Homo sapiens: one gene and its partners. The protein of the gene in region 3 interacts with the protein of the main gene of each other region in a pairwise test. Each region holds a gene or a part of one and is shown on either strand. Other genes may lie near its edges.

Region 1 (4,523 bases), on a different chromosome or scaffold from region 3:
TTATTACAGCGATGATCTCATAATATCACTGAAATGACAGATGAAAAAAATCTTTTCTTGCCCTAATGTAAAATCTCAGCAGGAAGCACTTAAGGTTAACTCCTGCTGACATGTCTAATCAGGTTGTAAAAGGGTTTCAGAGAATTAATCCTTGGATAAGGTGCTTTATACTGAAATAATGTAACCACTTTTCTTTGTAGTAATGAACCTTTTAATTTTAAAGGTAATTCTTCCTTGGGGACTTACTTAGTGCAATTCTAAGTTTTTTCCATATATTAAAGATGATTTAAAGTTGACATAGGGCAGATTTACAGTACACATAAGAGTCATAAAATGAAATGGAGAAAATATTCCAAGTCTTGATTTATGATTGAACCCTTCATAAGAATAATTAATTTACAACATTTTCTACCAGAATTTCCTTGAGACTATAGTTGAAAGAACTAGACTACAATAGATAGTATTGCTTAGTTGAGTACCAAATTTTATTAATGCAGATAATCCAGCTAGTTTAATTTTGATTTAAAACCTTTTTCCTGTCATCCCAACAGCTGTATTTTTACCTATGTGTACAGACATGTTTCATCTCTAGGGTTAATGGAAGTTTTACTATTTTAACGGTTTCTTCCCTCCTTAAAATTCTCTATCCTAGTTATCAGGCAAAAAATGTTTTGGGGCATGCTATTTATCCAGTCTAATAAAGCTAACTGGTAATATTCATCACCTAAAGAGTGATGAATTTAACACAAACAAATTAAACGAATTATTGGGGAGGCAGTCTTTTCTTTTGTTCAGAATTCATAAGGTTTGTGTTGTTAGCATGGTGTATTTTTAAAAGAATGATAAAAATAATCATGTTTAAAGAAATAAATTTACTTTAATGGTACTTTCAAAAAGACTAATCCATAACAAATTAAGTTATACTGTATTTCCTTTGCTACCCAGAACCACAGGGCTGGTTGTCAACACATATTGAAGAAATGTAAGCAAAATACAGAAAGTGATGATTTTCAAAAGGAAGAGAAGAAACTCCTTTTCAACAAACACTTTATATCATTTATTAATGCAGTATACATTAGATCTAAAATCTGCAGTTTCTAAGCACACCATGTTTAGATCTTTCAGATCCTTCTGCAGTTTTAGGTTATTTCTACAGAGGTACCTTTAAGTGAATGAATACCACATTCTGTAATTCCTGAAAATATAGTACAGAGTGAAATGATTTAAATATAATTTAGGCACATATTGATTATGAAAATAGATTATCTCTCAATACAATACTTCTCTGTCTTGGTAAAAATAATAAAGCAAAGAAAATAATTCATTTCTGAAGTTGCTTTCCTTCACTTGTAAAGGTCTGATCTCCTCCCACTATGCATATGTACCCTTTACTGTTAAGGAAAGCTTTGCATATGTAGATATAGAAGAATAAGCTACGTAAATACTAAAGATATGTCATTCTCCCAAAGGAGACACAGGTGGTTTTCAATGATTCCTTGCCTCATGTTGATGAGTCTGTAGAATTCAGAACCCATTTGGACACAGCTAATATCCCTGCTCTTGGGGTAGAAAATAAGGACACCAAGTCATTGGTAGGGAGGTACAGGCCCTTCCTCTGCTGCTGCAGAGAGAGAATGACTCAAGAAAATTGGGCTAAAATTTGTTTAAAAAAAAAAAACCACAAAAAAATAAGTAAAAGAATCACAGGTGCTGACTGATTGATAATTACATCTTGGACCAGCCAAATGCCTTTATTTTTACGTCTATTTTTTTGGTGGCTGTAATCAAATGTGTGTTTAAAATTCCTCATTCCCCACTGTAGGGTTCTAGCTGCAATTATATTACATTGCCTTTTAGCAGGCAACTCTACCATATTCACTCATATAAGCTTTGATTGCAGTAGCTCTGGATTTAGTATCTATTTCTAAGCTGGCCCTATGTAAACTATTTGGTATTTGAATTAAATGAATATTAATGATGCACCTTGGTTTTTTTGGTTTTGAAGTATCTTCCTATGCTTGTGATGACTGTATGAGAAAACTAGGCTAATAGTGTAAATAGATAGAATTGCTTGATCTGGTGTTGAGTGGAACTTGCCTAGAATGAAATTCTGAGAAATTCTCATTTGTAAGTGTTGTAGTGATAGGTAAGTTATTCCTCCATCCAGAGTTACACTGTACCTTTGGAATGACAGTGATGTACAATGATGTCTTTCTTTCCACTCTGTCTCAATCAGTAAGAACTGGATATTACTTTAATTTAGCTACTGTTCTGTCCTAAAAAGTAAACATTATAAAAATGAACCTGAAAAGAGTCTTAGGGAGTCTGATCTCACCATATTCATACGGTGTGACAGGTATTTAAAGAGGGGAGGCATCACTAAAGCTATTTATAAACCTGAACAACCTTTTCCAAGTTTTCATAAAGTTTTAACAATTTAAATATCCATACTGCATCTAGGAATTCAATAAATATAATTGCATATGTTGTGCTTTCCATAAATTAAAATCCTCAAATGCATCTCAAACCAAGATGGTATTTCCACATCATGCCTATTTAAAAGCAAATATAATAGATACTATGCCTGGTCATAAAACCAGGTAAACCCCCCTACCCCATTCAAAAGGCAGCAATATCTAGTTTCCCTACATCTATTAAATGAGTGCTTTTCTGTTAAAAATCAGAATATGGAAAAAAAGTCAGTTTTTTCCCTTATGCACCACTCAAAACAAGCATAATCCTCTAAATGTTTTTTTTTTAAATTTCCTTACAGTGTTATTTCTTCTAGACAACTGAGTGGGTGGAGAAAGAAAAGTGATAAGGAAAACATTTTCATCTTTTACATCTTCCTCCAGCCCCTAAAATTCTCATCTGACACTTTGTGACATGTGTAGTGGTGTCAGCATCTCTTCAAATATAGCTCCCTTCACGTTGGACCCTCTCAGGTTGGCTTCTTGAAGATCACACCCAGACAGATCACAATTCTGCAAGATGAAAACAATATTCATGTAATTCATGTGGAAATTTCAGGCCTTATCTATTTCTGCTCAAAATGATTTCTGGGGCAGATTAGGAAAATGTTCTTATACAATAAAACTCAGTTAATTTCCGGAAAACTGATGATACACCACCCTAAATTAAGATGTTCTTCTATCTTTATTTGTTACCTCTAGTTCAGGCTGATCACCATAAATATGTATAAACAAAGGTTAAAGAGGAAGCATGTCCCTTGTTCTTGCATATTTTATAAGGAGACATTGAAAACAGGGGTCCCCAACCCCTGGGCCACAGACTGATACTGGTCCATGGCCTGTTAAGAATCAGGCCACACAGCAGGAGGTCACCAGTAGATGAAGCTTCATCTGTATTTACAGCCAGTCCCTGTATGGCTCAAGTTACAGCCTGAGCTCCACCTCCTGTCAGATCAGCAGGGGCATTAGATTCGCACAGGAGCGTGAACCCTATTGTGAACTGCACATGTGAGGGATCTAGGTGGGGTACTCCTCATGAGAATCTAATGCCTGATGATCTGTCACTGTCTCCAACACCCCCAGATGGGACTGTCTAGTTGCAAGAAAACAAACTCAGGGCTCCCACTGATTCTACATTATGGTGAGTTATATAATTATTTCATTATGTATTACAATGTAATACTAGTAGAAATAAAGTGCACAATAAATGTAACGCGCTTGAATCATCCCAAAACCAGCCCCCGACTCTGATCTGTGAAAATATTTTCTTCCACAAAACCAGTCCCTGGTGCCAAAAAGGTTGGGGACCACTGATTTAAAATACAGAATGGATTCCAACATAATAAATACACACACACACACACACACACACACACACACACAATTTTTTTTTTGAAACGGAGTTTTGCTCTTGTTGCCCAGGCTGGAGTGCAATCTCGGCTCACTGCAACCTCCACCTCCAGGATTCGAGCTATTCTCCTGCCTCAGCTTCCAGAGTAGCTGGGGTTACAGGCACTCACCACCACGCCTGGCTAATTTTTTCTATTTTTAGTAGAGACGGGGTTTCACCATGTTGGCCAGGCTGGTCTCAAACTCCTAACCTCAAGTGATTCGCCCACCTTGGCCTCCCAAAATGCTGGGGTTACAGGCATGAGCCACTGCGCCTGGCCCCAAAGTAATAAATATTATCAAAACAATTTTACTATGATCCAAGAACAACAACAACAAAAGGAATGAGATGGGGGGAAGACTTTTTTTTTAATCTGAAAAGATTTTACTTAATCAAATTGTGTAATAGATTTTTCCATTCCCTAGCCCTAGTATTTTTATAGCAAGGAACTGCCCTTCTTTTTAAAGCCCCAAAGGTACGTATATAATACAGTGAGTTTGACAGATGTACAGAACAGTGTAACCACCGCAATTTGAAGCTATTTCTTAATTTGTCTTGAGATCACGGAGCAATAAGATAGAGATTCCACTTAAGTCCCTGGATATGATAGGGGACAATGGTTAGAGAGAAGGGTGACTAAACGTAACCTGTTAGGAGAACAA
Region 2 (4,523 bases), on a different chromosome or scaffold from region 3:
CAGGTGTGAGCCACTGCGCCCTGCCTAGCCACCCCTCTTTCACAAACTGGTAAACATGCCTCCGTGGGATTTTACAAAATGCTTCCTTTTTACCATTTGCCATGATTCTGGCACTTTTGCCATGTAATCCCATTAAGACTATGAGACTTCTTGTCCTTTTACATAAAATTATATTTGGCAGGTTGATGACACTTCACCTTCTATGGGCAGGGAGGGCGGCTTTTTGCAGACTTTTCCATGGAGACTGTCTGGAGGCCTTAGAGCACTCAAGGGAGCAATAACCCGAACAAAGAGTTGCTTATGACACCGGTTCCATTCTGTAGGTACCCAATGTTCTCACATGGGGATCTGCCCAGAATGACAGTCACTCGGCAGAACAAGATGCCGAAGAAAGGCTGCCAAGCTTCTAGGACCAGAAGATATTCTCGCTGTCCTCCTCCTCCTCCTCCTCCCCCACCTCTCCTCCTCCACCTCCCCCTACCCTCCTCCTCCGCCTTCTCCTCCCCCTCCTCCTCCTCACCCCCTCCTCTTCCTCCCCTCCTCCCCCCTCCTCCTCCTCCCCCTTCCCCCATCCTTCTCTTAACATGTGCTGCCATCTACTCCCTCGCCACAAACTCCTAAAGATCGTTCTTCTCTCAAAGCTGATTCACTTGGAATCTTAATGAGAGATGACAAGTGTCCTTTAAGAGAAAAGAACTGCGCTAGGCCCCTGAAGACAGACAAATCGCAGGGTGCTGTCCCTCCCGCTGCCAAATCATTCACTTGGCAAGCAGTGAAGTAATATCAGCTCTCTGAGCACCTCAACTTCAGATATGCTTTTCCTAGCCATTGTGGTTCAAAGGGTACCATTAGTAGAAAGGAGAGGGTACTATTAGCAGAAGGACTATCTGATAGCTTAAGGATGAAAGATTTTCCACACCCCATCCCACGGAAAGATATGAATTCCCAACTCTGAAATTGAACCCAGTGTCAAAGGAGGTTGAACACCAGTGACTGGCCAGACTTAAAAGTCCCCGCAGGGCTTAGTCCCTAGGCTGCTGAAGGGGAAGTCCCGCTACAGAGGTATCTAGCCTGTGTCATTAGATGGGAGACACAGAGAAAGGCATAGAGATTTCTCTGGGCCAGAAGATGAAAACTGAAAACAAGCCAAGCCATATCTCACATCCTAATTCTCCTGTAATCCCAGCACTTTGGGAAGCTTAAAGTTCCTAATTCTCCTGTAATCCCAGCACTTTGGGAAGCCGAGGCGGGCGGATCACCCAAGGTCAGGAGGTCGAGACCAGCCTGGCCAACATGGTGAAACCCCATCTCTACTAAAAATATAAAAATCAGCCGGGTGTGGTGGTGCATGCCTGTAATCCCAGCTACTCAAGAGGCTGAGGTCAGAGAATCGCTTGAACCCAGGAGGCAGAGGCTGCAGTGAGCCAAGATTGCGCCACTGCACTCCAACCTGGGTGACAGAGCAAGACTCTGACTCAAAAAAAGAAAAAAAAACTCCCCCCCGCCTAAAAAAACAATGACAACAGCAACAAACACAAAGTTCCTAATTCTCCTTCCAGTGTGCACACCAGCCCAAACGCTCCACAGTGCCTCTGCTTACCTCTTCTCAAGGCATTCTGGGCGTCCTGAGTCATGGCGTCTGCTTCATCCAAGATCACTAGCTTAAAGCCTTTCCTAGAAAAACAAATGGTGCTGTCTAAAGATTTCTTCAATCTCATCTCAACATCTGGGCTCAAACCTATATCTTCCCATTGTGCCATCGGGCCCTGTCTCAGAAAGACAATTTCTTCTAGAACTTTGGCCAAGGCAGACATCTTTGGTCACTCAGAGAGGAAATGCCGCATCACTCCTTCAACCCTTGGTGGGAATGGAGGAGACTTCTCTACTTCTGTGCGCTGTGTCCTCTGGCATCTTCACTTTCCTCCACATGGCACCCTACCATGCTACTGCTTTTCCCGTCTCCCTCACTCATGCCTGAGTCCCTCACCCTTTTGCTTTTTTTGAGACTAAGTTTTTGCTCTGTTGCCCAGGCTGGAGTGCAGTGCCGCGATCTTGGCTCGCTGCAACCTCTGCCTCCTGGGTTCAAGCGATTCTCCTGCCTCAGCCTCCTGAGTGGCTGGGATTACAGGCGCCCACCACCATGCCCAGATAATTTTTGTATTTTTAGTAGAGACGAGGTTTCACTATGTTGGCCATGCTGGTCTTGAACCCTTGATCTCAGGTGATCCACCTGCCTAGGCCTCCCAAAGTCCTAGGATTACAGGTGTGAGCCACTGCGCCCGGCCCTCACCCTTTTTCTTTCTTTCTTTTTTTTTTTTTAGCCACCATCCTAGTTGTCCTTCCTGATCTCAATTTATTTTTAAATTCAAACTAGCTCATCCAGTCTTAGGGTAATCTAGCCAGTTCTCAGGAACTAAAAATGAAGTTAATGCTCCCTAAAGAACTTGGTAATGCAGGCTGGGCTCACGTATGTAATCCCAGCAGTTTGGGAGGCTGCGGCGGGCAGATTGCTTGAGCTCAGGAGTTCGAGACCAGCCTAGGCAACATGGCAAAACCCCATGTCTACTAAAAAATACAAAAATTAGTTGGGCGTGATGGCTCACGACTGTAGTCCCAGCTACTTAGGAGGCTGAGGCTGGAAGATCGCTTGAACCCAGGAGGTGGAGGTTGCAGTGAGCCGAGATCATGCTACTGCACTCCAGCCTGTACGATACAGGGCGACCCTGTCTCCAAAAAAAAAAGAAAAAAAAAACAAACTTGCTAATACAAGCGTAGATAACATTTTATTTTAACAGTTGCATTATAACGCTTCTTACTACCATCCCTCTCGTTTATCTCTTTTCCATGGTTGCTTTGGACAAAGTCACTTTTTTTTTCAACCCATATAAACTGGCTAAGGAGAGGATTAAAAAATTAACCCATATCATCTTACTAATCAAAATCAAGGGAGCGAAATTACACAAATAATTCTTACTTAAATATTGTCCTTGTGCTAGCAAAGCTCAGGATCGGTCCTCGAATGATGTCTATTCCTCGGTCATCTGAAGCATTCAGCTAAATGTGGAAGACAGAAGACAAAACAAAAACCATGTTGCTGTGCTATCTGTGAGTTCTTGGTGTTAGTGTATTTCCTCATCAGTCCAGCTCAGCAGGCTAGCTCTCTATGTCTAATGATGGCTAAGAGATCATCATAAAATAAAAAATCAGTTTTACACAAAATTCACTAAATTAATAAAGATGGCTATATTACCCCCACCCTTTGAGGACAATGACTGACATAAATTGGAGAAATAATTAATTGGTATGGTTACACTGAACAGCACCTCTGGTATGAGCAGAATGATACAAATTTCAGCTACCACAATCCTAAGTTACCAAGTTCTTAATAAACTGAAATAAGGACATTAGTAGCAGCAAAGTTCTGAGACCTGCGTCTAAAAAGTAAGTTAAACTTTTCTTGCAATAGACAATACTCAGATTTTTGAATCTAAGTATATTAGTCAAGGTCCCAGCAATATACAGATGGCATACTCAAATGCAGCAATTTGAAGAGAATTAAACAAGATCTTTTTAAAGGTGTGATATAGGAAAACCATGGGGCTATGCAATACCTGTCACCCTTGAGCCTGAAGGGCTTAGTGAAGGGAGTGGCTGTAGGCACCTGGAGAGGGCTGCAGGAAAGGTACCACCTGTGAGATGTACCCTACAGGTGGGCCATGCTGCCAGCCTGTGTCAGCCCCCAGGGAAGGCCCAGGCATCACTCACTTCCTTCCCCCACCCCTGCCAAGGCCCCTATTGGCCAAACCCAACCAGGAGCCAGAGGGTAAGTGAGCTTATAGTCAGTAGGGCTCAGCCTTCCAGGCAGGAATATGGTGGAGAAACGTGGAGAATTGATCTAGAGGGGCCATGGCAGACAGGCAGCAACCAAGTCACCATAAAGTAAGGTTTGGGGAGAAGTTGGCAAGAGCAAAGAAAAAGGTGCCAAACCCTACAACTGCCCTCTAGCTGACCAACGCTAATCCAGACCAAAATGACCATTATAGGAAAAAGGGAATTAAAATATTCAAATTTACTTCTTTCCTAACTGTCCGTGGGGCAACTTACTTTTAAAGTAAAATAAAACCAGCAGAACTGAAATTAAGAGACTGGAGTCTCTTAAGTTATTTGTAGAGTAAGAACAATCTTATTTACCTCCAAGACCATGGAGCCAAATTCTTTGTCTTTATATAGCTGTTTCGCACAGGCTAGGATGGTAGATGTCTTGCCTGTCCCTGGGGGACCGTAGAGAAGCAAGTGTGGCAGTCGGTCTTCATTGATAAACTTCTGAACTGAGGATCAGGAAGGAAGAAGGGCACCATCAGTCTTTGGGAGCTGCCTCATTCACCCTGGGCTCCTGAGTTGGGCTGAAAGCTCTTCAACCCAATTCAATGTCCAAATCAGAGGCAGATACAACTTGATGTAGGGGCCTCATATCTACTTTCGTGGAACAACTGGAATTCACTCAATAGCGCAGCCAGTCAACA
Region 3 (4,523 bases):
TAGGGATGTACTCTAACAGACTCAATTTAATCAAATAATTTTCTTTTTTTTTTTTTTTTGAGATGGAGTCTCACTCCATCGCCCAGGCTGGAGTGCAGTGGCATGATCTCTGCTCACTGCAACCTCTGCTTCCTGGGTTCAAGTGATTCACTTGCCTCAGCCTCCCAAGTAGCTGGGATTACAGGTGCCCACCACACCTGGCTAAATTTTTTGTATTTTCAGTAGAGACAAGGTTTCACCATGTTGGCCAGGGTGGTCTCAAACTCCTGACCTCAAGTGATCCACCCACCTCAGCCTCTCAAAATGCTGGGATTACAGGAATTAAGTAATTTTCATGCAGCTTCTTCTCTCCAGAGTGAGTTCATTCATGTCTTTAAAGTGAACTGGAACAAATGAGAGCTTTCCCACATTTATTACATGGACAGTTTCTCACTAGTGAATTTGTTCATGTCTTCGAAGTGAACGGGGATGACTGTAAGCTTTCCCGCATTGCTGACATTTATAGGGTTTCTCTTCTGTGTGAGTTTTTTCATGAATTCTAAAGGAACTGGAACACGTGAAGGCTTTCCCACACTCCTTGCATTCATAGGGTTTCTCTCCAGTGTGAGTCCTTTCATGTATTTGAAATGAACTGGAATGACTGAAGGCCTTTCCACATTGTTTACACTCATAGGGTTTTTCTCCAGTGTGGATTCGCATGTGAATTTTAAGGTGGGTGGAATAGTTAAAAGCCTTCCCACATTCCTTACAGGTGTATGGTTTCTGGGCACTGTGCGTTCGCATGTGATTATTAAGACATGAGGGATACCCAAATACTTTCCCACATATCTTACACTCACAGGCCTTCTCTTCAGTGTGAGTTCTCAAATGTCCACTAAGATTTGAGGAAACTGCAAAGGCTTTCCCACATTCAACACATACAAAAGGCTTCTCTCCAGTGTGAGTTCTTATATGTTGAATAAGGCGTGAGGATGTAAGGAAGGATTTCCCACATTCCTTACATTCATAGGGCTTGTCTCCACTGTGAGATCGTACATGCATACTAAGGCCCGAGTACTGAGTGAAGGCTTTCCCACATTCCTTACATACATAGGGTTTCTCTCCAGTGTGAGTTCTTCCATGTATCTGAAATGAGTTGGAATAATTGAAGGCTTTCCCACATTCCTTACATTCATATGGTTTCTCCCCAGTGTGGGTTCGCATGTGAATACTGAGGTAGGCTGGGTATCTATAGCCTTTTCCACATTCCTTACATTTGTAGGGCTTTTTTGCATTGAGGGTTTCTATAAGCACAGAAAGGCTTGTAGAGTCAATAAAACCTGGCCCATAATTCCTCCATTCGTAGAGTTTTTCTCCATTGTGAGTTCTCATATGTGCCTGAAGGTATGACTCATTAATGAAGGATTTTCCACAGTGACTACATTCAAATGACTTTTCTTGTGTGCTAGTTCTCTGGTATACAATATTTGGTGTCAGGCTGAAGATTTTTTCACTCTGATTAAACTCAGAAAGTTTCTCACCAGTAGAGGTTTTCTCACACAGGGTAAGGAAATCTTTTCCATACTGATTACAGTCATGAGTGTTCCCTGTACTTTGAGTTCTCACGTGCGTCTTAAGGCATGAGTGTTCACTGAAGACTTCTCCACATTGCTCACAGTCACAGAGTTCCCTTCCATTGTGTTTTCCTTCCTGTTGAAGGGATGATGATGATTTAAGGATTTTTCTCAAACATATTAACAGAACATACCCATCTGAAGCTAGAAACATTATAATGGTGATTATAATTGATGCCATTTTTATTACATGCATTCAGGTCCTTCCCTGTAGATTTATTTTAAGTGGTATGACTTAACTCTTATTCTAGAATGTTGTGCCATCTACTTTAATCTTGGCTAGGCATGGTGTCTCATGCCTGTAATCCCAGCACTTTGGGAGTCCGATGGGGGGCAGATCACCTGAGGTCAGGAGTTCAAGACCAGCATGGCCAACATGGTGAAACCCTGTCTCTACTAAAAATACAAAAATTAGCTGGGCTTGGTGGCACATGCCTGTAATCCCAGCTACTTGGGAGGCTGAGACACAAGAATCGCTTGAACCTGGGAGGCGGAGGTTGCAGTGACCCAAGATCACACCACTGCACTCTAGCCTGGGCAACAAAGCGAGACTCCGTCTCAAAATAATAATAATAATAATAATAACAGATTTCTGTAGAATTCAATGTCTAGATGGGTGCAGTAGCTCACATTTGTAATCCCAGCATTTTGGGAGGCAAAGGTGGGTGGATCATTTGAACCCAGGAATTAGAGACCAGCCTGGGCAACATGGCAAAACTCCATCTCTATAAAAAATATCAAAAAATTAGCTGGGCATGGTGGTGTGTTCCTGTAGTCCCAACCACATAGGAGGCTGAGGTGGGAGGATCACTTGAGCCAAGGGGTCAAGGCTTCAGTGAGCCATGTTTGTGCCACTGCAATCCAGCCTGGGTGACACAGCAAGACCTTGTCTCGACCAAAAAAAAAAAATTCATAGTCTAAGCCAGATGTGGTGGCTCATGCCTGTACTCCCAGCACTTTTGTAAACTGAGGCAGAGGATCACTTGAGCACAGGAGTTTGAGACTAGCCTGGGAAACACAGTAAGACCCTGTCTCCACAAAATTTTGAAGAATTAGCTGGGTGTGGTGGTGCATGCCTGTAGTCCCAGCTACCAAGGGAGGCTGAGGTGGGAGGATCGCCTGAGCCCAGGAGGTCAAGACTATACTGAGCCATGATTGCACCACTGCACTCCAGCCTGGGTGACAGAGCAGTATCTCGTTTCAAAAAAACACCAAAACAAAACTCAACGTCTAGTTACACTTGTGGGAATGTGTGAAAGCTCCAAAGAAACAAGTTTCACAATTGGAGCATCCCTAAATTCTTTGCTCCCTCTCATGTGTATGCAACTTCTCTCAAATATCTCTTATTTTTGCTGACTTCCCATAACAGAATTCCTGATTTTCTCTGAGGGTGGAAAATAAAAAATATCCTATGCAAATCTTACCAATTGTATCCCAATGGATGTCTGACCCCTCAAAAAGTCCTGCTGAAGTATAGACCACTGGGTTTCAAGTCGCATTTCCCATCCTGAAATAAAACAGACAAACAAATAAAAGGACTCAAGCTAGGCACAGTGGCTCATGCCTGTAATCCCAGCACTTTGGGAGGCTAAGGCAGGTGGATCACTTGAGGTCAGGAGTTTGAGACCAGCCTGGCCAACATGGCAAAACCCCACCTCTACTAAAAATTCAAAAGCTAGCTGGGTGTGGTGGTGAGCACCTGCAATCCCAGCTACTCACGGGGCTCAGGCTGGAGAATCTCTTGAATCCAGGAGGCAGAGGTTGTAAGGAGCTCAGATCACACCACTGCACTCCAGCCTTGGCAACAAACAGAGTGAACCACAACAAGAACAAATGAAAGGATTTGGAGAAAGAAATGCAAAGAGTTCAAAACAATATGGCTTATTTCTATTTGTTTCAAATTAAACATGGCAAGAAAAAGCAGAAAGACATTTGGGGATTTGGGCTATATCAAAAATTTGGTTTTGATGTAAATGATCCAAAGGGGGAAAAATTGGCCAAGACAAGGACATGGGGTAAAACTTTTCGATCGTTTATTACAAATTGATGCTATGAAAATTAAAACTGATAGTGAATAGAGAGAATCAGGGAATGAAAGTAGGAAATTTCTGAAAAAAGAGCGTATATCTAAACAATTAACTTGGCCGGGCACGGTGGCTCATGCCTTTAATCCCAGCACTTTGGGAGGCCGAGGCAGGCAGATCACGAGGTCAGGATATTGAGATTATCCTGGCTAACACGGTGAAACCCCGTCTCTACTAAAGATATAAAAAAATTAGCCAGGCATGGTGGCAGGCACCTGTAGTCCCAGCTACTTGGGAGGCTGAGGCAGGAGAACGGCATAAACCCGGGAGGTGGAGCTTGCAGTGAGCTGAGATTGCACCATTGCACTCCAGCCTGGGCGACAGAGCAAGACTCCATCTCAAAAAACAAAACAAACAAACAAAAGCCACAATTAACTTAAAGAAATGTTCTAAGACCCCAGGTGGATGCCTGAATCATGGCTAGTTCTGAACCCTGTACATACTATGATTCTTCGATCTGGTAACTGAGATGACCGCTACGTGACTCACAGGTGGTGTACACAGTGTAGATACATTGGACAAAAGGATGATTCACACCCCAGGCAGGATGACATAAGGGTTCATCATACTACTGAGAATGGTGAGAAATTTAAAACTTATGTTTTGTTTATTTCTGGAAATTTTTCTTTTTTTCTTTTTTTTTTTTTTTTTTTTGTGGGGTGGGGGTCAGTGGCCAGGGTCTCACTCTATCACCCAGGCTGGAGTACAGTGGTGCAATCACATCTCACCACAGCCTTGACCTCCTAGTCTCAATCCATCCTCACAGCTCAGTCTCCTGAGTTACTGGGACAGCAGGTGCGTCCCACCACCCTCGGCTAATTTTTGT
Region 4 (4,523 bases), about 44 Mb from region 3:
TGGAGTACAGTGGTGAGATTTCTGTTCACTGCAACCTCCGCCTCCCAGGTTCAAGCGATTCTCCTGCCTCAGCCTCCTGAGTAGCTGGGATTACAGGTGTGCACCACCACCAATTAGCATGGCTAATTTTTGTATCCTTTTATTTTTGTTTTGTTTGAGATGGAGTCTCCCTCTGTTGCCCATGCTGGAGTGCTGTGGCATGATCTCGGCTCACTGCAACCTCTGCCTCCCGGGTTCAAGTGATTCTCCTGCCTCAGCCTCCCCAGCAGCTGGGACTACAGGCGAGAGCCACCACACCCAACTAATTGTTGTATTAGTAGAGAGAGGGTTTCACCTTGTTGGCCAGAATGGTCTCAATCTCTTGACCTCGTGATCCGCCCGCCTCAGCCTCCCAAAGTGCTGGGATTACAGGCATGAGCCACTGTGCCCGGCCGTAATTTTTATATCTTTAGTGGAGAGGGGATTTCACCATGTTGGCCAGACTGGTCTCAAACTCCTGACCTCAAGTGATCCACCAACCTTGGCCTCCCAAAGTGCTGGGATTATAGGCGTGAGCCACTACGCCCAGCCTCTGAAACATTTTAAAAAATTATCTGGGTTAGGCCGGGCGTGGTGGCTCACGCCTGTAATTCCAGCACTTTGGGAGGCCGAGGCAGGCAGATCACCTGAGGTCGGGAGTTCAAGACCAGCCTGACCAACATGAGAAACCCCGTCTCTACTAAAAATACAAAATTAGCCGGGGTGGTGGCGCATGCCTGTAATCCCAGCTACTCGGGAGGCTGAGGCAGGAATTGCTTGAACCCGGGAGGTGGAGGTTGCAGTGAGCCAAGATCGTGCCACTGCACTCCAGGGTGACAGGGAGACCCTGTTTTAAAAAAAAAAAAAATCCCAAATAAACTAGATGATGCCTCATCCCATTCTAAGTCCTTCAGATTAGGGCTACAGCTGGCCTGGCAGAAAGGTGAGGGAGAAAGTCACAATTAACATTTGATTGGAATTTACAGAGCACCAGATTGAATTATTATTTTTTTTTCTCGAGATGGAGTCTTTCTCTGGCACCTAGGCTGGAGTGCAATGGTGTGATCTCCGCTCACTGCAACCTCCACCTCCTGGGTTCAAGTGATTCTCCTGCCTCAGCCTCCTGTGTAGCTGGGATTACAGACACCCACCACCACGCCAGGCTAATTTTTGTATTCTTAATAGAGATGGCCATGTTGGCCAGGCTGGTCTCAAACTCCTGACCTCATGATCTGTCCGCCTTGGACTCCCAAAGTGCTGGGATTACAGGCATGAGCCACTGTGCCCGGCCTGAATTATTATTTTTGAGACAGAGTCTTGCTCTATCACCCAGGCTGGAGGGCAGTGGCATGATCTCAGCTCACTGTAATCTCGCCTCCCAGGTTCAAGTCATTCTCCTGCCTCAACCTCCCGAGTAGCTGGGATTACAGGCATGCGCCACCACACTGGGTTAATTTTTGTATTTTTGTAGAATGGTGTTTCACCGTTTTGGCCAGGCTGGTCTCGAACTCCTGACCTCAGGTGATCCACCCGCCTCGGCCTCCCAAAGTGCTGGGATTGCAGGCATTAAGCTACCGTGCCCAGCCTCTTTTGTAATTTTTAAATTTTAATTTTTTTTTTTTTTGAGACAGAGTTTCACTCTTGTTGCCCAGGCTGGAGTGCAATGGCATGATCTCGGCTCACTGAAACCTCTACTTCCCAGGTACAAGCGATTCTCCTGTCTCAGCCTCCCAAGTAGCTCGGATTACAGGCATGTGCCACCAGGCCCGGCTATTTTTTTTGTATTTAGTAGAGACAGGGTTTCACCGTGTTAGGCTGGTCTTGAACTCCTGACCTCAGGTGATCCACCCACCTCGGCTTCCCAAAGTGCTGGGATTACAGGCATGCGCCATCGCGCCTGGCCTTAAGTTTTTAAAATTTTAAGTCGGGTAGCACCCCCAAATCAGAATAAGTTCAGAGAGACTTCCTGTCTTTTCTTTCCACCTCTCTTCTTGCTACCTGAATCTTTTGTAGTGAAGCAGGATAGTTCATAAATAGAAAAATGAAGGATGAGAAGGCGCTTCCACTGTCCAAACGTGACCACTGCCACCCCGTCACTCCCCGATGCTCACCACAGTTTCTGGAGTCTGCAGGCGGGATGTTGCAGCCCCTCAGCCAGCAACCACAGGCCCCAGTCTCCCAGGTCGTTGAAACTCAAGTCCAGCTCCCGGAGGTTGTGGTTGGCCTGGAGCACCACAGAAAGACCCTCACAGGCGGCAGAGCCCAGCCGGCAGATGCCCAACCTGCAAAGACAGGATGCTAGGGCGGAGTGGGAGGCATTCCTCCTGCAAAATCTGCTGGGAGGGCCCTGTGCCAAGCCCTGTGCTGGTTGCAGACAGAGGGACAGACTCAATCTCTACCCTTGAGAGACAAAAAGAAAAAGACGACAGAAGTAGGAAGATGAGAGGAAGGGAGGAATAAGAGAACAGAAGGAAGCAACTAAGAATCAGGCCAGGTGCCCTGGCTCATGCCTGTCATCCCAGCATCTTGGGAGGCTTGAGGCTGGAGGGTTTTTTGAGGTCAGGAGTTTGTGACCAGTCTGGACAACCAATAACTTGTCTGTACAAAAAAAAATTTTTTTTCTTTTTGCGATGGCGTTTCCCTCTTGTTGTCCAGGCTGGAGTGCAATGGTGCAATCTCGGCTCACTGCAACCTCCACCTCACAAGCTCAAGCGATTCTCCTGCCTCAGTCTCCCAAGTAGATGGGATTACAGGCATGTGGCAACATGCCCGGCTAATTTTTGTATTTTTAGTACAAGCGGGGTTTCACCATGTTGGTCAGGCTGGTTTCGAACTCCTGACCTTAGGTGATCCACCCGCCTCAGCCTCCTATCTACAAATTTTTTTTTTTTTTTTTTTTGAGACAGAGTCTTGCAATGTCGCCCAGGCTGGAGTGCAGTGGCGTGATCTTGGCTCACTGCAACCTCCGCCTCCTGGGTTCAAGTGATTCTTCTGCCTCAGCCTCCTGAGTAGCTGTGACTACAGGTGCACACCACCACGCCCAGCTAATTTTTGTATTTTTAGTAGAGACGGGGTTTCACCAGTTGGCCAGGATGGTCTCCATCTCTTGACCTCGTGATCCACCCGCCTCAGCCTCCCAAAGTGCTGGGTTTACAGGCATGAGCCACCGCGCCCAGCCGCGTGTGTGATTTTTTGTTTTTTGTTTTTTGCTGGTGCCTTGATAAAAAAAATACACAAAGTGTGTTTTTTGAGCACTTCTACCCACGTCTTATACTAGTCACTAGGAGATACAGTTGGCATAGCTCCTATGCTTGTGGAATGCCACCACACACACATATACACAAATTACAAATTTTTCTTTTTTTTTTTTGAGATGGAATCTCGCTCTGTCATCCAGGCTGGAGTGCAGTGGCAAAATCTCAGCTCACTGCAACCTCCGGCTCCCGGGTTCAAGCAATTCTTCTGCCTCAGCCTCCTGAGTACCTGGATATCAGGCGTCCGCCACCATGCCTGGCTAATTTTTATATTTTTAGTAGAGACGGGGTTTCACCATGTTGGCCAGGCTAGTCTTGAACTCCTGACCTCAGGTCATTCTCCCACCTTGGCCTCCCAAAGTGCTAAGATTACAGGTGTGAGCCACCGCATCCTGCCTTCAGATTTCAATAAATGATGCTGAGGGGGAAGTATGAGGTCACATAGGATCATAAATCTAGGAACCCAGATTTTAGCTAGGGATTAGAAAGGGTGTCCAGCTGGGTGTAGTGGGTCACACCTGTAATCCCAGCACTTTGGAAGGCCAAGGCCAGAGGATCTCCTAAGGCCAGGAGTTTGACACCAGCCTAGGCAACAAATCGAGACCTTGTCCCTACAAAAAATAAATAAAAATTGGCCAGGCGCAGTGGCTCACGCCTGTAATCCCAGCACTTTGGGAGGCCGAGGCAGGTGGATCATGAGGTCAGGAGAGAGAGACCATCCTGGCTAACACGGTGAAACCCCATCTCTACTAAAAAAATGTTTTTAAAAATTAGCCGGGCATGGTGGCGGGCACCTTTAGTCCCAGCTACTCGGGAGGCTGAGGCAGGAGAATGGTGTGAACCCGGGAGGTGGAGCTCGCAGTAAGCTGAGATCGCGCCACCGCACTCCAGCCTGGGCGACAGGGCAAGACTCGTCTCAAAAAAAAAGTAAAAATTAGCCATCTGTGGTGGCATGCGCTTGCAGTCCCAGCTACTCAGGAGGCTGAGTTGGGAGGATGGCTTCAGCCCAGGATGTCGGGCTATGATCACACCACTCCACTCCAGCACTGGTGACAGAGCAAGACCCTGTCTCAAAATACAAAGTAAAGAGTGTTCAGAAGAAAAATTGAACTTCTCCAGGCAAAGAGGGGACAGAGAGCAGAAGGCATGCCAGGGAATAAGAATTGCTTGTGCAAAGGGCCGTGCGTCAGAAAACCCCCCCCTTTTTTTTTTTTGAGACGGAGTTTCGCTCTTGTTGCCCAGACTGGAGTG
Region 5 (4,523 bases), on a different chromosome or scaffold from region 3:
CGCCTGTGGTACCAGCTACTTGGGAGGCTGAGGCAGGAGAATTGCTTGAACCCAGGAGGCGGAGGTTGCAGTAAGCTGAGATCATGACACTGCACTCACTCCAGCCTGGGTGACAGAGCGAGACTCCATCTCAAAAAAAAAAAAAAAAAAAAAAAACAGCCTGGGATCTGCAATCTGACAGATGATGGCTTAACATCCCAGCTCAATCCATTGAAAAGCTGTGAGGCTTTGAAAAAATTGCCTATTCTGATGCCCAGTGTCTTCATTGGTAAATGGCGATTTTATTTTATTTTATTTATTTATTTTTTGAGATGCAGTTTCGCTCTTGTTGCCCAGGCTGGAGTACAATGGTGTGATCTCGGCTCAATGCGACCTCTGCCTCCCCGTTTCAAATGATTCTTCCGCCTCAGCCTCCCAAGTAGCTGGGATTACAGGCATGTGCCACCACACCCAGCTAATTTTGTATATTTAGTAGAGACGGGGTTTCTCCATGTTGGTCAGGCTGGTCTCGAACTCCTGACCTCTGGTGATCCACCCGCCTCAGCCTCCCAAAAGTGCTGGGATTACAGGCATGAGCCACCACACCCGGCCGGCCGGTAAATGGGGATTTTAAACCCTACTTGCACAGGATAGTTACAGGGTTAAATAAGACAGCATTTGTAAAGCATGGCACAGGCACACAGCAGGTGCTCAAAAATGTCAGTGTTTGCTCAGCCCTCCCCGTCTTCAACCTAACCAAATCCAGCCTATGTCATTTTTCTAAGGAATCCAAACCTTTCCTCCTTTTTAAGGCATTTTCCTGGCTGCTCCTCCTCTACAAAAGGGAAATGCTATGTCCTGGGATATATAAATAGGGGAAAGTAGGCTGGGTGCAGTGACTCACACCTGTAATTTCAATGCTTTGGGAGGCCAAGGAGGGAGGATCACTTGAGGCCAGGAGTTCAAAACCAGCATGGGCAACACAGCAAAACTCCATCTCTACAAAAAAGTAAAAATTAGCTGGGCGTAGTGGCACAAGCCTGTTGTCCTAGCTACTTGGGAGACTGCAGTGAGCTATGATCCTACTACTGCCCTCCAGCCTGGGCAACAGAGCTAGACCCCATTTTAATCAGTCAATGTAATTTCTGGTCAGAGGAAGATTTTTAGATCCCAAGTGAACTGAATGGTACACATCACCCCTGAAAGGCTTTTTACCCAAGATCTCTCTCAAAATACATTTCTCCGTTTTTCTTATTTTATTTTACTTTTTTTTTTTTAGAGACAGGCTCTTGCTCTGTCGCCCAGGCTGGACTGCAGTGCCATGGTCATAGCTCACTGGAGGCTCAAACTCTGGTGCTCAAAGTAGCTCAAGCGATCCTCCTGCCTCAGCCTGCTGAGTCACTAGGACTACAAGCGGGCATAAAGAGCAAAAATTAGCTATTTTTGGTTTTTGTTTATTGTTTTTTTGTAGAAATGAGGTCTTGCCACGTTGCCCAGGCTGGTCTCAAATTCCTGGCCTCAAGCAGTTCTTCACCTCCACCTCCTAAAGTGCTGGGATTACAGGCGTGAAGCACTGCACCCAGCTTCTCAGTCTCTCTTGATTTAATGTTATTCACCATGGGAAGTAAAAATCTAGAAACAGCAGCAGGAAGAAGGTACAGAAGGCTACTTGGCGAGACCAGACATCAATCAGGATCAATTTGTAAGACCAAGACACTGCAGGCCCCCCACCGGCCCTTCTTGAGCTCATGCCTCCTTTGGTTAAAACTCTTAGTAAAAAGGTATAGCTGCTCTTTCATTATTCTTATTCTTTATTCTTTTTTTTTTTTTTTTTTTTTTTTGAGATGGAATCTTGCTCTGTTGCCCAGGCTGGAGTGCAGTGGTGCAATCTCAGCTCACTGCAACCTCTGCCTCCCAGGTTTAAGCGATTCTCCTGCCTCTGCCTCCGGAGTAGCTGAGATTACAGGCGCCCGCCATCATGCTCAGCTAATTTTTCTATTTTTAGTAGAGATGGAGTTGCACCATGTTGGCCAGGCTGGTCTTGAACTCCTGACCTCAGGTGATCCACCTGCCTTGGCCTCCCAAAGTGCTGGGATTACAGGCGTGAGCCAGTGCACCTGGCCTAAAAATAATTTGTTTAAAAAGCTTCCTGGTGAAAAAAACAATGGACCATGCAGGGGCAGGTGTGAGTTGGAAAGATAGGACCTGATCCTTCCCCAGGGTGACAGCCACAAATCTGCTCTGCTCCTCTGCTGCCTAGAGGAGGCTGAAACCCAATAGGCTCAAAGTTACACAGCAATGAAGGTGAGATGGGACCACCAACCCACATCTGTGTCCTCCCCTGCCCAGGGGACCAGTCCCAGGCACCAGGCATTGTGTAGCATCTTGTTGTCATTGCGTGGCACATCTTGTGATGTTTCTTGTCTTAATCCAGTTACAAACAAGGAGGCAGGGGCTCAGAGGGGCCCTAACAACTTGTCCAAAGTCACAAAGCGATGTGGCCCAGATCTGACTCCCAAATTATGGGGCCCTGTATATATCCTCAGTAAATGGTAAATTCAAGGAAAAGTCAAATGTCCCTAAATGTCCTCCTTTGAGAGGAAAATAACTAAGAGTAACCTAAAGCCATAAGCCTTGCCTATGAGGAGAGGGCTATACCGTTTTGCCTACAGAATTTTAGAAAGATTCCTGATTTTACCTCTTACCTTCGTAATTTGTCCAGCCAGTGGCCTAGGAATTCCCCAAGCAAATGGGTGTCAGCCAAAAACATGGCTTTGAGCACAGGCTCACGTGTGGTCTGTTCACCATCAGAGGCTGTGGTTTTCACTTCAGGCCAATTACACTGAAAGATCGCTAAGTAATAGATTAAAAATTCACAAAATAGAAGCACAGCAAAGACAACAGCTATGAGTTTCAACAGCAATGAACTCTTCCTCTTTAATGGATGAAAATTCTGTCTTCCAAACCCCAATTCGATCATCGCCATTTCTCAAGCAACAACAAATCCATCAAGGGTTCACCACGAGAAAACTGCAGAGCCCTGGGGAGGGTGATGGCATTCAGGTCTTAGCTGGGCACCTACGGGAAAAGGAAAAGAATTCAGTTATGTTCCCTAATAATACAGGTATCACGACCTCCCTCTATTAAGAACTAATGAGTTACATAATCCTATCTACATTTCCAAATTAATCGTCTTATACTTTTACAATAATAATATGCCAGATTACTAATAAGGAAAACAACTGACCTCTCTGACTCCTTCAAGCTCTCCATACCTCCGTATGTCAGAATAAAGCTATTAGAATGCTTTTCTCACCAAGATGATAAAGTTTCATTAATATTCTAGAAATCATCAAATGGGAATCCATGAGAATGATGTGTGTCAAGGTAGGAGACATAATGGGAAAATTCAGTATTATTTAAGTGTAATTTTGACTCCCAGGATTCCCCACCACCCCTCCTTGACCTTAAAAATCAACAGGTCACAAGCCGCCTGTAATGTGTTGCTTTTGGTGTTAATTCATCACTTTTCTACTCTGCTTTTCCACAAAATAAGTGAATATTCATGGACAATGTGCTTCAAAGATCCAAGGAATTCATTCCACATTGGACCCAGAGGCCAGGATCTGACAGTGAAACCACCTTTGCAAAATTATAACAGTAACAGAAATCTGACATAGTTGACTCCATCTTGTTTCTGACTGCCAAGATGTCCTTGGTCATTCCTGGATATAGGCCAAGCTAACTTTGGGAGAAATTTGGTTTATAGGTTTTTGTTTGTTTGTTTTGTTTTGTTTTGTTTTGTTTTTGAAATGGGGTCTCCCCTGTCACCCAGGCTGGAGTGCAGTGGTGTGATCTGGGCTCACTGCAACCTCCGCCTCCTGGGTTCAAGTGATTCTCATGCCTCGGCCTCCCAAGTAGCTGGGATTGCAGGCACTCGTCACCACGTCCAGCTAATTTTTGTATTTTTTTTAGCAGAGACGGTTTTTCGCCATGTTGGCCAGGCTAGTCTCAAACTCCTGACCTCAAATGAACCACCTGCCTCAACCTCCCAAAGTGCTGGGATTACAGGCGTGAGCCACTTTGCCAGGCCAGTTTATAGTTTAACTTTGAAGCAAGGATGATGATAATAGTCTACTCCCTGTTCTGAGGCTGAAACCACCTTTGAAAACTAATGAAAGGTATCGAGATTAGGATTAGGGGAGGGGCTTGAATTCTGCTGAATGTAGTTTCTATAATCCCTAAATGCTCAGGAGTCATGAGGCCAGAGGTAACAAAGATTTGTGACTTCCTTCAATTTCTCCTATAAATAACATCACTATTGTAGATCCTAAGATTGGTCTTTTGACATATTTTTCAGACTTTCGGGCAACTGATTTACCCTACCTGACTGACCCTGCTGGGACCCATATTTCATGGCTCAACTGATCCTATGACCCCACCCAGAAGTGGACTCAGCACACAAGGACTGTTTTCCACATCCCTATGATTTCATTCCCAACCAATCAACAACTCCTATTCCCCAGCTCCCTGCCCACAAAATT
Region 6 (3,544 bases), on a different chromosome or scaffold from region 3:
GTTCTGGGGTCTGTCATCCTCTAGATGCTTTGCCTCAGCCTTGGTATCAATGAACTGGCATTTATGTCATATGCCACAGCCCCTGCAGGCAAGAATATTTCTCCTTGCCCTGATTGTCTGTTGGTTGCCAGCCCTTCCCTTCTCTGATCACAGAGAAGCTGGAAGCCTGCAAACTACATTTGCTAGAGCCCTTACCAGTGGGCTTCCAATTTGTTTCTGCTGGTAGGAAGCACTGATCAATCAGAAGGCAGTAAAGTTCCTGGATCTGGGGGTTTTTTTAGTGGTGGCAACAGCAGGCATGCACACCTGGGTCTTGTTCAGCCATCAACTTTCTACCAGGAGTACCCTAGCAGCCCTGTGATCCCCAGACGCTTCTGGGTGACACCTGTTCCTCCAGCCTCCATGTAAAAGCAGCTTCCTGCACTTACTTACCAATATTTTGGCAATCTCACCTCCACTCTCACTCCTCTCATCCTTCCAACAGTTTTCATAACCAGTCCCCTGCATTAAATCCACTCTGAAGTGCCTGGGCAATTTCCATTTTCCTGACTCTTCACTGACTGGTAATGTCCTTGGTAGCAGGAATGACTTCCTAGAAATAGAGCCTTAATGCTGGAAATCGGGGACTGGTTATCTGCCTGGATTGGGCTGGAACGCAGTAATGACCTCACTGTCAGAGGGGATGTGGTACCCTGGAAAGTCACAGCATTCAGTGGCAAAACTAGTCCTCACAATATCACCTATGTTAAGTGCCTGGCGTGAAGTGTCTCTTGAAGGCAAAGTTTGAGAGACCAAATGGCTGCAGCCCTTCATGTCATGGGGACAGCTGGAGAGACTGGTGGCTTCTGACTACACTGGAGTCAGAAGTGATAAACCCAGCTCAAAACATGGACAGAAAACCAGAGAGCATCTTTGATAACCAGAAAAGAATCTCTTTAATATCTTGTAGCCGTAAGACTGATACAACTGAAAACATAACCCTAAATTTGATTCTGCAGGTTGCAGTTACAACACAAGTTGAAGTCACAGCCTTGCCGGAACTCTTATGTAAAGTTTAGGGCATTGGATCTGGAAGGAGTGGGACCCTGAGAATCGTAAAGGGATATTTGGGTGGACTTGAGCAAATCCAAGAACCCTGAACTGAGGAAGAGCAGTGTGAGTACATGGTCAGGGGCTCCATGAATATTCCTGCCTGCAACCCCAGCTTCACAGGCAATTCAGCCTTCTCCACACTGGCCCGGCACTGGCTAGCTGCTCACCTTATGGCTCGAGGCAGGACCCCCCCGCAGCCTTGCAGCTGAGTGGGAAGTTGCTGGAAGTTGTATCTGTTTATTGCTTTTAAGGCTGTCATGAGCAGACATAAGACCTCATATCACACAAGCTTGATGCCACCAAGAGGACGGGAGCTGGGCTGGGTCCTGAGCCCTTCTAGCGGTGTGGCTTTGGCTTGTGACCCCCGACTCAGCCTCAGTATCATCTATCAAATAGGCCTAATAATGGGCATGTCCCGGGACTGCTGTGAAAACGAAGTGGAGTAAGATTGCAACGGGGCCTGGTGAGGTGGCTCACGCCTGTAATCCCAACACTTTGGGAGGCCGAGGTGGGCGGATCATTTGAGGTCAGGTGTTCAAGACCAGCCTGGCCAACATGGTGAAACCCCGTCTCTACTAAAAATACAAAAATTAGCCAGGCATGGTGGTGGGCACCTGTAATTCCAGCTACTCGGGAAGCTGAGGCAGGAGAATTGCTTGACCCGGGAGGTGGAGGTTGCAGTGAGCTGAGATCGCACCTCTGCACTCCAGCCTGGGCGACAGAGCAAGACTCCCATCTCAAAAAAAAGATTGCAACAGGCCTGGCAATTTATCTTTCATTCTGAGTAGCCATGTAACCCCTAGTGGTAACTAGGAGAAATTGTCCTCCAGCAGTCTGTCCCCTCCCTCAGTAGCTGGGGCGGAATGAGATATGGCCCTGGGCCTGGTGCAAGATTTTCACTTGTTTTGGAAGCATTAGCCACAGCTTTTCCTTGATGGGCATGTGTTATCATGAGGCTGGGCCTCACCTCCCTGCATTGGACCAGAAATTCTAAAGGAAGCAACTTCTTATGGCACAGCGGATCTCATGCATGGCATCACTGCCCCTTCCCTAGGAGACCGCACAAAGCCACTCAGCTTCATAGCTGGGCTGTGGCCTCAGAGGCTTTTGTGCCTGGAGGTGGCAGGGAACTGTGGTGTGGGGGCTGGGCCAGCCGGGAAGGTAGAGCCGCCCAGACTGGGGTCTGGGTTCCTGAAGTCACTGTTATCCTGCAGGGAGACCTCAGCCAAGCCCCAGTGACACGCAGGGTCTCGCTCTCCACGCTGAAGGCTGTGCTGAGGGCTGAGCAAAAAGAGGCCAGACACCAGGGAGGGAAGCCCGCCTCCCCCTCCCCACCTCGACCTCCACACCAGTTAAGGCTGACCGGCAGGTTGCTGTGGGGGAAGCGACAGCGTGCAGACAGCACTGCATGCCAGGCCACACCTTTTATGGAAATGTTCCTCTGAGACCTGTTGATGAGCTTGGAGAATGAGGAAGGGGACGGTCCAGCGGCCAGCTGGGTCCACACCCTGCCGCCGGCCCTGAGGAGGGAAGGCACGAGTCACTGCCTATTTTGACCCGGCAAGAAATACAAACCCACAGGGTGAGGCGGGCAGAAAAGCAGCTCTGTGGGAGACCTGCAGGCCCCTGAGCATCCCCTGCCCCAGTCAGGTTCTCGCCCAGGTGCATAAACCGGCCCCATGTGGCGGCATCCTTACCAAGGACCCCCAGGTGACCGGACAGGAGGGGTGAGGCTAGGCTGCCAGGCAGACAGGGTAGCACCAGATGGGATGGGCTGGGGGCTCCAGGGCACGGTGTCTGTGGCAACCCAACCTGGGAAGATGTTATTGCTCTGCTGGAGACCTTGGGCCAGGCCCCGCGAAGCCCTGCCTAGCCCCTTGGCGTGGGTTAGCGGTGCTTTAAGGCAGCCCGAGGCGAGGAGGCCAGGTCATACCTGCGGGAGCTTGATGAGGCCTCATGAGAAAGCCCTAGTCTCAGTTCCTGGGCCCGGGGCCTCTGCAGGCCTCCACCACCCCATGCTGCCTAGTTCAAGTATTTGTTGTGGGCTGGCCAGATCAAGAGTCACCTGCTAGAACACAGGGGTAGGAATCTTAGGTGGGAGTGGGAACAGAGTGGCACCAGGCCCATTCCCTCCTGGCTCTCAAGGTCCATGCTGGCCCTCAGGGGCTTCCTGTGGGGGACTCTTTGTGCTGTCACTGCAAGGGACCCTCCTGCGGATGGGCTGGAGGCCACAGGGACATGGCCCCAGCTCACTGAGCTCCTGAGTGGTCATGATTGACTATGTGCTTGAACTTGGGGAGGGACGTGTAGATGGGAAGGGGGTGACCTTAGGGAGGGTAAAAGAGGACCCTAGCTCTGCTGCCCTGGGACAGTAAGGGGAAGGCCCAGGCCTGGCTGCCCATCCTCTGTGCCTACAACCTGCTCTTTCCTTAAATTCTGCCAGCAATGGGCC
Region 7 (4,523 bases), on a different chromosome or scaffold from region 3:
AATTCTTCACCCCTAACTATTTCAGTATGTATTTCCTAAGAACAAGGACATTGACTTATATAACCACAATACAATTATCATATTCATGGCATTTATCACATTGATCCAATATTATTATCTAATATTGTCCCATATCCAAATGTTTCAGTTATCTAAGTAATGATCTTTGTAGTACATTCCATCCCCTTCCCAATTCAAGAGCATTGGTTGCATCTGAAATAATGTATCTTTAGCCTCCTTTAATCTGAAACAGTTCCTCAGCCTCTCTGTGTCTTTCATAACATTGACATTTTTAGGTAGAAGCTATTTGTTTCATAGAAGATACTTCTGTTTGGGTTTATCTGATTGTTTCCTCATGTTTAGATTCAAGTTATGCATTTGACAGGAGTATTTCCTTTCTAAGAAAAAGAGAAACCAAATAGAATAAACTCAATTTTATTCATTTGAAGGCAGTATTAGATATTCCTTTGATGAGGAAGAAAAATTCATCTTCAAGTTCCAAATCTAAAAATCAAATATACCCATATTTCAGAATTTCATCAGAGATATTAAAAAATTTAGCTAAGTTGTATTTGAGTCCCAGAAAGCCAAATATATACTATTTACCTAATTGTTATATTAATATTTGAGTAAGTACTATATTTAGGCTACTACAGTAGACCCAGGACTCTGTTTTGTTATAAACACTGATATTCAGTCACAAATATGGATAAACAGGGTTTCAAGATGATTCTTTAGAAATGTTCAGTCAGTAATTACAGCTTGATGAGTATGAAATTGTAAACTATCAAAGATACCACAGTAGGTAAATATTAAAGACATAATACATTCTAAAAAGTGGGTGAGGCTGAGCGCAGTGGCTCATGCTTGTAATCCTAGCACTTTGGGAGCTGAGGTGGGTGGATCACCTGAGGTCAGGGGTTCAAGACCAGCCTGGTCAACATGGGGAAACCCCGTCTCTACTAAAAATACAAACGTTAGAGTTTCTGTTTGGGATGATTAAAAGTTCTGGAGATGGATGACCATGATGTTTGCACAAAAATGTAAATGTACTCAATGTCATTGAATTGTACACTTAAAAGTGTTTAAAATGGTAAATGTTATATATATTTTACCACAATAAATAAAATATAGACTGGAAAAAAAATAAATAAAAATAAAAATAAAAATACAAACATTAGCTGGGCCTGGTGGCGGGCACCTGTAATCCCAGCTACTCAGGAGGCTGAGGCAGGAAAATCACTTTAACCTGCCGGGTGGAGGTCCAGTGAGCCGAGATCGCACCACTTCACTCCAGCCTGGGTGAAAGGGTGAAACTCCATCTCAAAAAAAAAAAAAAAATGGGTGAGGGATTTCGATCGAAGCTGTGGAATCTGCTCCAGATCTCAGGTTGCTACTATAGCATCTTGGGTAGATCACTCTTCTCCAGTAAGCCCTGGGCTTTCTCAAACCTTTTCTGTACAGGAAGCCTGTCCCTTCTGCCATCCTGGTCAACTCTGCCTACCAAATTCCTGCCCATCTTTGAAAGCGAAACCCTAACCTAGGCTCCCCTCCTTTGGGAAACTTCCCAAGGCCTCCCTCCATGCTACATGATCATCTTTTTTTTTTTTTTTTTTAAGACGGAGTCTCGCTCTGTCGCCCAGGCTGGAGTGCAGTGGCGCGATCTCGGCTCACTGCAACCTCAGCCTCCCGGGTTCACACCATTCTTCTGCCTCAGCCTCCCGAGTAGCTGGGACTACAGGTGCCCGCCACCACGCCCGGCTAATTCTTGGTATTTTTAATACAGATGGGGTTTCACCATATTAGCCAGGATGGTCTCGATCTCCTGACCTCGTGATCCACCCACCTCAGCCTCCCAAAGTGCTGGGATTACAGGTGTGAGCCACTGCGCTCGGCCGATCATCTCTTTTTACAGACTAGACATCCTTAATCACAAGTATCTTTTTTTTTTTTTTTTTTTTTTTTAAGACAGAGTCTCGCTCTTGTCGCCCAGGCTGGAGTGCAGTGGTGCAATATTGGCTCACTGCAACCTCCGTCTTCCAGGTTCAAGCTATTCTCTTGCCTCAGCCTCCTGAATAGCTGGGATTTCAGGTGCATGCCACCACACCCAGCTAATTTTTGTATTTTTAGCAGAGATGGGGTTTCACCATGTTGGCCAGGCTGGTCTCTCAATCCTAACCTTTGGTGATCCACCCGCCTCGGCCCCCAAAGTGCTGGGATTACAGGCGTGGGCCACCGCACCCAGCCAATCACAAGTATCTTTATAGGACATCTTTATTTTTTACAGAAAATAAAGTACTAGCAGAGTACTTGGCCTTCAGTCGTTATTTCTTTAGCCCATTAGTAATGAATAAAGAGGTTTCGCTAGCAAGAATGAAAGAAAGGACTAAGAGAAGCTCTACTATTTTCTGAAAGGTGATAAAACATACAATCAGATAAATTTCCTTTTAAAAAGACTTTCAAATAAATCTTTAGAACCTGCAAACCCTCCCACAAAGAAAATGTAAACACTGAAAGGTAGGAGGCAATTTTACTTTATATTTCTAGTATCACCACAGCTTTTCATTCAAACAAACATTGCCATGAAGTTAGGGAAATTCCTGCTGCATTCACTTGTTACTTTTTTTTTTTTTTTCAGTAATCAAGTTGAAGAAACACTTCCACTACTTAAAAAGGTACCTGCAAATTACTTTCACATTTGTTCAGCTATCCTAATGGGATTTTCACTTAGTAAATCTGCTACTCAGGTATCTGCTATACATATGGATTCAAAAGTGGATGATCACTTAATACGAGGGACTGAAAAAAGCAGGTTGGAACCAGCGACTCAGTTATTTCAAAACACCAAGAAAATAAGATTAGAAGACACAAATCAAGAAAACTTTACAAGGATTGAAGGGACTGGCACAGGATCTCTTTCTGGGAAAGCCTTGGGTTCAGTGGTATATGTCAAAGAAAGTGATGGACTAGAAATGACAGATGTGGAATGAAGCAATTTGTACGTATTACCAAAGAAACCAAAAACTGCCTTTGACTAAGGGGGGTGTTGAAAGAGAACTTAACCTTATTAGGAAACCCTGACAAAATGATGGAAGACTATTGCCTTATTTTGCACTATTTGTGAATCATCTTACACTGCATTTTTTTATGATGCTTATTCAAAAGGCAGTTGCTTTAGGGTGAAAAAGCCTTCCAAGATTCAAAGCAGATTTCTCTGGTATTATATTATATCCTTCTTAAAAACCAGAGTTTTTAAGTAACAGTATTTGAATGGCATCAAAACATTTTCATTTTAATGTATTTCTTTAACAAGTGGTTAAAAAAAGTGTCCAAGCAGCCGGGCGCAGTGGCTCACACCTGTAATCCCAGCACTTTGGGAGGCCAAGGCGGGTCAATCACCTGAGGTCAGGAGTTCGCAACCAGCCTGGCCAATATGGTGAGACCCCATCTCTACTAAAAATGCAAAAAGTTAGCCAGGCATGGTGGTGGGCACCTGTGATCCCAGCTACCTGGGAGGCTGAGGAAGGAGAATCGCTTGAACCCTGGAGGCGGAGGCTGCACTGAGCTGAGGTCATGCCATTGTACTCCAGCCTGGGCAACAAGAGCAAAACTCCGTCTCAAAAAAAAAAAAAAAAAAAAAAAAGTCCAAGCAATGTGACATCCGTATTTCACAATATTTCTGGTGTATCAGTTTTGTATGTTACATTTCCATTTTGGGATTCTGCTTTATGATACTTTACTTTCTTACATTTTGCATTTTTGTTCTGTAAAAGATCACTGCCAATAAACTGCAAAAGACCAATAAATTGCATATCTTCAGAAGGATTTCACATTTTAAATCGTGCCTTTAAAACTGCTTTTTCCCCCCACATAGAATCCATTTTAGAGTTAGAAAAGTGTTCTTTCCAAGTGTTAATAGTTTGTCTTGCAGATGGTACCATTTTATGTCACCAATATTTAATATGAGAAAAAACAACCTGTTTAAAAACCTTGTTTTGTATATCAGTTATGAAAATATCTGGTAGTTGGAAATCTCTTTAATATTCATTTTAAAAGAGGAAAGGGCATCTTTTCCGGGGGGAAGCTATATTTTATTAATCAGAAAAATACTAAACAAATGTGTTTGTAGGGAATATTGAGAGTGAAAAACAATTGTTGAATGGGACATAAGCCAAAAAGACAATGCTTTTTATTATTTACAGAACGTAATTCTTTAGAAGAGAAAAAAAATACATAAATCATTCATTTGTTCACCTAGCCTGGCACTGTGCTTGGTGCTGGAGATACAGTAGTGAATAAAATAGCCAGTGCCTTGTAGAGTTTTGTGCCTGTCTACTAGGAAAGACAGGAGATTATACAGTAATTATATAAGATGCAAATTGTGATATGCCATGAAGAAACGTATAGCATTCAGAGGGACATAACACAACACAAGACATACCACATAAAACTGATTTTTTTTAAGATGGTCTCACTCTGTTGCCCAGGCTGGAGTGCAGTGGAGCGATCATAGCTCAGTGCAG

What was found.
Region 1: the proteins of ZNF426 (region 3) and KCTD9 interact in binary tests that used the Homo sapiens proteins (3 or more experiments, as listed by UniProt).
Region 2: the proteins of ZNF426 (region 3) and RFC5 interact in binary tests that used the Homo sapiens proteins (3 or more experiments, as listed by UniProt).
Region 4: the proteins of ZNF426 (region 3) and NLRP12 interact in a two-hybrid assay, tested with the Homo sapiens proteins (one large-scale study listed by IntAct).
Region 5: the proteins of ZNF426 (region 3) and MPPE1 interact in binary tests that used the Homo sapiens proteins (3 or more experiments, as listed by UniProt).
Region 6: the proteins of ZNF426 (region 3) and NATD1 interact in binary tests that used the Homo sapiens proteins (3 or more experiments, as listed by UniProt).
Region 7: the proteins of ZNF426 (region 3) and TSGA10 interact in binary tests that used the Homo sapiens proteins (3 or more experiments, as listed by UniProt).

What each region holds. Positions count from the first base shown.
Region 1 is NC_000008.11:25,426,990-25,431,512, forward strand, and holds the end of KCTD9 (BTB/POZ domain-containing protein KCTD9), read right to left. Parts: intron 2,985-4,523; coding exon 2,868-2,984; 3' UTR 858-2,867; downstream 1-857. UniProt on the Homo sapiens protein: Substrate-specific adapter of a BCR (BTB-CUL3-RBX1) E3 ubiquitin-protein ligase complex, which mediates the ubiquitination of target proteins, leading to their degradation by the proteasome.
Region 2 is NC_000012.12:118,019,437-118,023,959, reverse strand, and holds part of RFC5 (replication factor C subunit 5), read right to left. Parts: intron 4,329-4,523; coding exon 4,192-4,328; intron 3,055-4,191; coding exon 2,975-3,054; intron 1,675-2,974; coding exon 1,601-1,674; intron 1-1,600. UniProt on the Homo sapiens protein: Subunit of the replication factor C (RFC) complex which acts during elongation of primed DNA templates by DNA polymerases delta and epsilon, and is necessary for ATP-dependent loading of proliferating cell nuclear antigen (PCNA) onto primed DNA.
Region 3 is NC_000019.10:9,527,948-9,532,470, forward strand, and holds part of ZNF426 (zinc finger protein 426), read right to left. Parts: intron 3,121-4,523; coding exon 3,038-3,120; intron 1,690-3,037; coding exon 433-1,689; 3' UTR 1-432. UniProt on the Homo sapiens protein: May be involved in transcriptional regulation.
Region 4 is NC_000019.10:53,796,114-53,800,636, forward strand, and holds part of NLRP12 (NACHT, LRR and PYD domains-containing protein 12), read right to left. Parts: intron 2,419-4,523; coding exon of another isoform or gene 2,301-2,418; coding exon 2,130-2,300; intron 1-2,129. UniProt on the Homo sapiens protein: Plays an essential role as an potent mitigator of inflammation. Primarily expressed in dendritic cells and macrophages, inhibits both canonical and non-canonical NF-kappa-B and ERK activation pathways.
Region 5 is NC_000018.10:11,894,300-11,898,822, forward strand, and holds part of MPPE1 (metallophosphoesterase 1), read right to left. Parts: intron 3,322-4,523; exon of another isoform or gene 3,227-3,321; intron 3,058-3,226; 5' UTR 2,966-3,057; coding exon 2,685-2,965; intron 979-2,684; exon of another isoform or gene 886-978; intron 1-885.
Region 6 is NC_000017.11:21,237,959-21,241,502, forward strand, and holds the end of NATD1 (protein NATD1), read right to left. Parts: 3' UTR 912-3,544; downstream 1-911.
Region 7 is NC_000002.12:99,147,845-99,152,367, forward strand, and holds part of TSGA10 (testis-specific gene 10 protein), read right to left. Parts: intron 3,826-4,523; exon of another isoform or gene 2,991-3,825; coding exon of another isoform or gene 2,715-2,990; exon of another isoform or gene 2,639-2,714; intron 505-2,638; exon of another isoform or gene 420-504; intron 1-419. Other genes in the region: uncharacterized protein C2orf15, read left to right, coding at 2,715-2,990. UniProt on the Homo sapiens protein: Plays a role in spermatogenesis. When overexpressed, prevents nuclear localization of HIF1A.